Linked DNA regions of Homo sapiens. The protein of the gene in region 1 purifies or fractionates together with the protein of each later gene. This does not show direct contact. Each region holds a gene or a part of one and is shown on either strand. Other genes may lie near its edges.

Evidence for each region.
Region 2: the proteins of FDX1 (region 1) and NR4A2 purify together in Homo sapiens (tandem affinity purification; one large-scale study listed by IntAct). This does not show direct contact.

What each region holds. Positions count from the first base shown.
Region 1 is NC_000011.10:110,457,257-110,461,067, reverse strand, and holds part of FDX1 (adrenodoxin, mitochondrial precursor), read right to left. Parts: intron 1-3,811.
Region 2 is NC_000002.12:156,323,780-156,326,983, forward strand, and holds the end of NR4A2 (nuclear receptor subfamily 4 group A member 2), read right to left. Parts: intron 3,142-3,204; coding exon 2,939-3,141; intron 2,550-2,938; coding exon 2,371-2,549; exon of another isoform or gene 2,368-2,370; intron 2,222-2,367; coding exon 1,965-2,221; 3' UTR 658-1,964; downstream 1-657. UniProt on the Homo sapiens protein: Transcriptional regulator which is important for the differentiation and maintenance of meso-diencephalic dopaminergic (mdDA) neurons during development.

The DNA of each region.
Region 1 (3,811 bases):
AAAAGAAATGTTAATCTTACAATTGACATGTCTTCAATTTGATGAAATCTGATATTCAGGTCTTGGTTTTATTAATGTACTCATGAAGCATTTATTGAGCACCTAAAGGCACAACACTAAATGTCAATGAGGAAGAGCAAATCAACTCCACACTTTCTTACTGAACACTTCTTATTTTCTGGGCATTGGGATGCACTAAAGAGACAGCATCAGAGTTACAGCCAAAGAGACCAGCAGTGCAGAATCCAGCACTTAATATACCATGTTCACAGGCAACTTGCTTAACCTCACCAAATGGTAGTTTCCTAACCTAATCTTCAAGATGAGCAGGAGAATTCCTCACAGGACTGCTGTGAGGATTGGTTGCTAATGCCAGCATTAATGAGTAAACTTTCAATCAAAGGGATGAGATGAGACACATTCAGATAGTTAACATGTGAGACTGTGGCAAATGCCACCGAGGGAGAAAGCCAAATGGCTCTGAGAGGTCTAAGAAGAAAGCCCTTACTTCTGGCCACAGAAGGTGTTGTCCACAATGGGCTTTGGAGGATAGGTAGGATTTACTATTTAGTACAAGATAAAGGAGAAAAGTATGTGAGGCAAAGGCAACACAATGCAAAGAAGCTCAAGTCACATTTAAAGCAAGATGGGTGTTTTAGCTTGGTTGCTGCACAGCGTAAACAAGGACAAGGGGAATGATGGGCCAGAAAAGCGGCCAGAGCCACAGGCAGCTGTGAATATCAGTTAAGGGGCCTGTGTTTCACTGGTGAGCAAGGAGGAACCACCAGGAAGTTTTGGAGTAAAGGAGTGTGCTTAACCATGAGAAATACTGATTACTAATAGAAAAAAAATCCCCTCTATCAAGAGTTCTTTATTTGTAGAATTGGAAACAGCCTTCACAATACTCAATTATGCATTAAGCTCTGTCTGCAAGAGAGAAAAAGTGGCAAGCCAATTTGGACAAATTCGTTAAGACAGCAGTGAGCTCTAGAGAGTCTGTTGGTTACTCTTGGTATTCATACACAGATAGCAAGATGATGCTGGTCTTCAAGGAACGGTTACTTTAGTAAGGGAAACAGAGATGGAAACAGTTATCAGTGAAACATGGCAGGGTACCACAAGTGTGGTGATAGAAGAACAATAAATCTGTTATGGGAACACAGAAAGAGACGGAACAAAAAGCTCCTGCTCAGTCTAGAGAATAAGGCAGTGGCGCTCTGTGGCTAGTTTCTCACTCTCCTACTTCTTCTACCTCCTTAAAGATCTCTGGCTCCAAGATCCACCAGTATAGATGGTGTCTCATACTTCTAGAGAAGGAGACAAACAACAAGGCTCCCCTGATTTCACACTTTGAGTCCCACAACATTTTGACACTTCTGCAAACCTGGAAGGTATTTTCTCCAGTTACTCTTGCCACATATCCCTGATGGTGAAAATATACTGGGTATTAGGTTTACTTTAGTTCTAGGGTTTGGTTTTCAACTCAGAGAAGCAGCTTGAAATAGTAAAAGACTAAAGGCTTTGGGGCCCAACACAGCTGGATTTAAATCAGGGGTGTTACCCACTAGCTGTGCAGCCTTAAGCAAATCCGTGATAACTAAACCTTGTTTCCCCACCTACAACATGGTGATAGTACTGCCTAACCCTGAAGGTTAGAAATAATACTTAAGTGCCTAGGCATTACAGTAAGTTCCCAATAGATAAGTCGATATGATGGTAGTTACAATGCTAACAACTACCATTTAATGAATGCTTTCTCCACCAAGCACTGTTCTGAGAGCTTCACATATATTTCCTCATTAACTCCACACAGCAATACTGTGAGGTAGGTACTATTATTATCCTCACCTTACATATAAGGAATCTGAGGCCTCTGTGTAGATTACCCATGCAAACTGGTGGCAGGGAGCAATTACAATCATCCAATGTAAACTCACAGGTAATTCCTGAATCTCCCTTTCCATCAACTATTAATTCCGCAAGCAGTTGGTGACCTCTACTGTGAATCTGGCATTAGAGATACAATGGTAAAATAAGACATGGCTGCTCCTTTAATGGGAAAAGGGAGATAGGTAACCAGTATGAAAAAAACAATGAGGCTGTCCATGTATCATCCATCCATCCATCAACAATCAAGGTTAAGGACAACCAATAAAACATTGAAGCCAGGCACGGTGGCTCACGCCTGTAATCCCAGCACTTTGGGAGGCCAAGGTGGGCAGATCATGAGGTCAGGAGTTCGAGACAGCCTGGCCAACATGGTGAAACCCCGTCTCTACTCAAAATACAAAAATTAGCGGGGCATGGTGGCAGGCACCTGTAATCCCAGCTACTCGGGAGGCTGAGGCAGGATAATTGCTTGAACCCGGGAGGCAGAGGTTGCAGTGAGCCAAGATCATGTCACTGCACTCCAGCAAGGGTGACAAAGCAAGACTCTGCCTCAAAAAAAAAAAGAAACGATGGTGTTTTTGCTTAAAAATTAAAAACATTTACATAGTATTTAAAGTAAGTATATGAACTAAAAGGCTGAATTTCCTTATTTCTTTTTCTGAAACTTTCTGATACCCTAAAAATAAGTTTACATGTGGTTACTAGCTTTGAGCAAAATTCTTTCCATTCCAAATATGTCAATGTGTTTTGTAAATGCTACCTGTGAAACCCATTATACTCTTTCCCACAAAGTATTTCTACTAAAATGCTGTGTACTTAAGAATACCAGCTATAAAACACCATAAAAGCTATTCCTTGCTCTCTATTGTGTAGCTGTAAAACTTGGAAATTTTATCATCAATACTCTTGCTAGCTTACATTTATTATAGACCTTTTGTATCTAACTGTAGCTCTCCCTTTTCCCTTTCTTTTCAATTAGAATATTATCTATTACAGGCATCTACAAATTGTAACTGTATAAAAGAGCAAGCAGTTAGCTATGATTTAACTCTCTTATTAAGAGACACAATTCTCAGAACCAAACTAATACAGTCATTGGATTTAGTTTCTGTGTTAAGGGGAAGAAAGGAGGTGCTCATAGAGAACACGGCACTGAAGATGTGAGAGGACAGGCAGACAGTAGCCACAATCCACTCTGCTTTGGTGTCCAAAGAGATACTATTTCACCAGTTTCTCTTCCCAGGGTTATCAGTCTCACATCCACCAAGAGGGAAATGAACTATAAAAGGAACAAAATGATTCTTCTTCTCTAAATAAATACAAATGACCTGAAAATGTTTGTGAGGATTAAATGAGGTAGTTTATATTAAAAGTGTATAACAAAATTGTAGCTATATAATACACATGAAATAAAACTATTATTACTATCTTTAATTTTTAAAAAATTATTTGTCATTAAGGTCACCAAACTAGAGTTAAACAAAGCCAACCTTAATTAAGTAATATGCCCTCATTATCTTACCCCTTGAAATAGTATATCAGCTAGCTACCTTCATTGACTCCAATCAAAAGACTAGATAATTTTTTTAAAAAATAAGATATCACTTGATGTCACTTGCTACTGTAAATCTCACCACTTTTAAGAGTAACTATTAATTAATAACAAGAATAAGCTCTGATTACTTTAAGGTACACTTAGAAAAAGAGCTATTCATTTTAACATAATTACTATTATATATTAAGTTTCTTTAAAAATTCTGTTCTAATAGGTGAAACTTTCCATTATAATTGTGTTCAATTATCAAATATAAAAGCATTAGATTTAACCCCTCCATTCAGTTGTGATACATATTAGTTCCTGGAGTAAAAAGAGACTAAAGAAGAGGTGTTAGGATCTAGAACTTATACTTCCAATTAATTT
Region 2 (3,204 bases), on another chromosome or scaffold:
TAGATATTTTATCATGTACCTGAGAAACTTACACGGGAGAAATTCTATTCTAAAACTACAAATTGCACCTCATCACCATCCACTGAATGAGGAAAATAAAGAGTTGTAAGAACTACCTCTACTGAGTTCTGCTCTGTGCCAAAGTGACCCAAGGCCCAAAGGGCCTGAACTGCTTTGCCCTTTCTCCATGACCCAACAGTTGTAAATTGAGAAATTGGAAAATCGGAGATTACATACAACACTCCTCAAATCCATGTTGACTTCTTGAGTCTTAAAAAGATACTTCCTAATCACTGTGCAAGACAAGTACTTGACTAGACTCTGACCTTGCTCAAGTTCAAAAGCTTTTGGGTCTCCAGAACTTCTCTCCTGAAAGCTACACTTACTTGCAAAGTTAACAGAAGAATTGAGATATTCTAAATTGATCCTAATAAATATTGGTCACCAGACTGGAAAATTCTGGTTAAGAAAAAATATTTTACTGAATTATCTGCATAATTATTCTGGTTCACCTGATTTCTTTTGCCAGAATAGATTTAGGCTGTTTAAAATTCAGATATTGAATAAGTGACCTATCCCAAATTAATCTCCAACTGTGTATGTTATGTTGCTGTTTAGTCATTATTTTTTCTGACCCAAAAAGAAGACAAAATTCTGTTCATTTACATGGTTTATTGTTGTAAACATTAAAATTGTCTTTCTCAAAGAAAGAATTTATCAGAAAAAAAATCAGCATCTCTAACTGTCATACACCATAGAAAAAAAGGCAGTGACTCATATCATGTGCCATACTAGAAATATACAAAGAAAAATACTACAGAATATGGCAATATTAAAATTCTTACTCAAACAAAATAATAAATTAACTGACAATTTTAGACATAAAAAAAATTCAAAGTGCTCAGTTATTTCCAGGGAGTTATGTATATTATAAGCACTCTGGAAACAGTCAAAAGCTGCTGCATGCAAGTTTTGTTTAGCTTTAGACAACAAAATAATCAAGATATAAACTTTCTTTTTATCAACATCAACGGTACATACAACACTTACAAACAAGGAATGTTGGACGGTGTTACAAACACTATGTGTCCCTTTTGTCAGGATTTTCTGATGTGTAATACTTGTGCCCACCTATTTTACAATTGAGAAAATGTTTAAGCTCAGATAACTACCAATCTTTATAAAATCTAACAGACTACATAGTGTCTGAAATACTATTTATATAATATAGACATTACTGAAGTAGCAAGTGCCTATAACATTTTCAACCTAGAATCAACATGCTTGTCCCTTTTTTATGTATTTATTTTCTTTTTTTTTGCAAACACACTTATCTTTTAGAATTTGTAATATTTATTCATAAATAGGCACAAAATAATTTAAAAAGCCAAACTGCATTGGGTAAATTTACAAGCCTTTGCCTTCTTCAACTCATGCCACCCACGCAACATTTAGTTTTACTATATATTACAGCTTTCTTTACAGCAGAAAACTTTGAAGTCTTGTTAAAGGGCAATACTTGTGGGTCCCCTTAAGATGTGTCTCTGTGTGTGTGTGTGTGTGTGTATGTGTGTGTGTGTTACATTTGTCTGAACTGCAACAACCAAGCATGGCCAAACATTTCCCATTATACATTATAGCAATCTTTCTTCTGAACAACAAACTGATTTTTAAACTGAGAATAAAAAGTTTATACCACTGTATTGTGTGTAGTCCATGTTCTAAATCCAGGATGCCCCGGAGCCAAAATGCCCTTTCAGGTTCTGCCTGCAGGTTAGGAAATAGCAACAGTTTTTGTTTGTTTGTTTGTTTTCTTTAGGGATCAAGGGGGCTAGGAGGGTTACAGAAATGGGGGGCAGCTTGAGCTGAGACTGCTCACACGGCTATCTCTGCCCATGTGACTTGCCCCCTCTTGACAGTTTCCATTATCATTCCAGTTCCTTTGAAGTGCTTGGGAGGAGGTCTTAGAAAGGTAAAGTGTCCAGGAAAAGTTTGTCAATTATTGCTGGCGGTGGCACCAAGTCTTCCAATTTCAGGTAGAAAATGCGCTGTAGCCCCTGTGTGCAAAGGGTACGAAGTTCTGGGAGCTTCCCCAACAGTTTGGACAAATAATTGGGGCGGTTCAACCCCCCATTGTTGAAAGTCACGTGGTCTTTGAGACAATTTACAATCTTGTTTTGCAGTTCTTCCACTCTCTTGGGTTCCTTGAGCCCGTGTCTCTCTGCAGAAAACATAATCAGAAACAAAAGAAGAATGTACAAGACAGTTAGCTAGTTGGCAAAACCAAGGAGAATCTGTGACAAGGGAAACTCAGGACAAATCCTGCTAGGCAGTTCTGGAGGGGAAGCGCCCTGCGCCTGCAGTACTGACCTGTGACCATAGCCAGGGCAGCAATGCAGGAGAAGGCAGAAATGTCGATGTTCATATTCTGCAAGTTGGAGGAGAATTCAACAATGGAATCAATCCATTCCCCAAAGCCACGAACGCATTGCAACCTGTGCAAGACCACCCCATTGCAAAAGATGAGTTTACCCTCCACTGGGTTGGACCTGCAATTAATACCAAAGAGAGAGAGGGGAGAAAAAGAGAGAGAGAAAAGCTAAACAACTAATTACTTGAAGAGCAATAAATGAGGGATTTAAGAGTCACCTAATTACTGAAGAGTTAATAAAATGTAGACCAGTGGACCTTGAAAGGGTTTAATTTCATAACAATCAAGAACGCCCCCTATCCCACCTCCATTCCATTCATCCAAGGCTTCTGGGCTCGCTTCTTCTCGTCTTTTTTTGTTTTCTTTCTTTTTCTTCCTTTCTCCGACTTCCATTTCCTATTCTGTCTTTTTCTCTACCCCACCCTCTGGTTTCCCTTCCTCCCTTTCTTTTCCTTTCTTGATTTCTCTCACAGCCTCCCTGGATTGTCTCCCTCCCTCCCTTATTACCTGTATGCTAATCGAAGGACAAACAGTTCTAAGAAAGCTGATTCAAAAAGCAGGTCTTGGTCGGCTTTGGGCAGGTCTGCGAAGCCAGGGATCTTCTCTGCCCAGCCCCGGATGATCTCCATGGAGCCAGTCAGGAGATCATAGAATTGCTGGATATGCTGGGTGTCATCTCCACTCATTTGATAGTCAGGGTTCGCCTGGAACTGGAATTTCATTTTAAAAAGCACTTAATGAGGTTCTCTAAAATATATAACCCGTGAAATTGC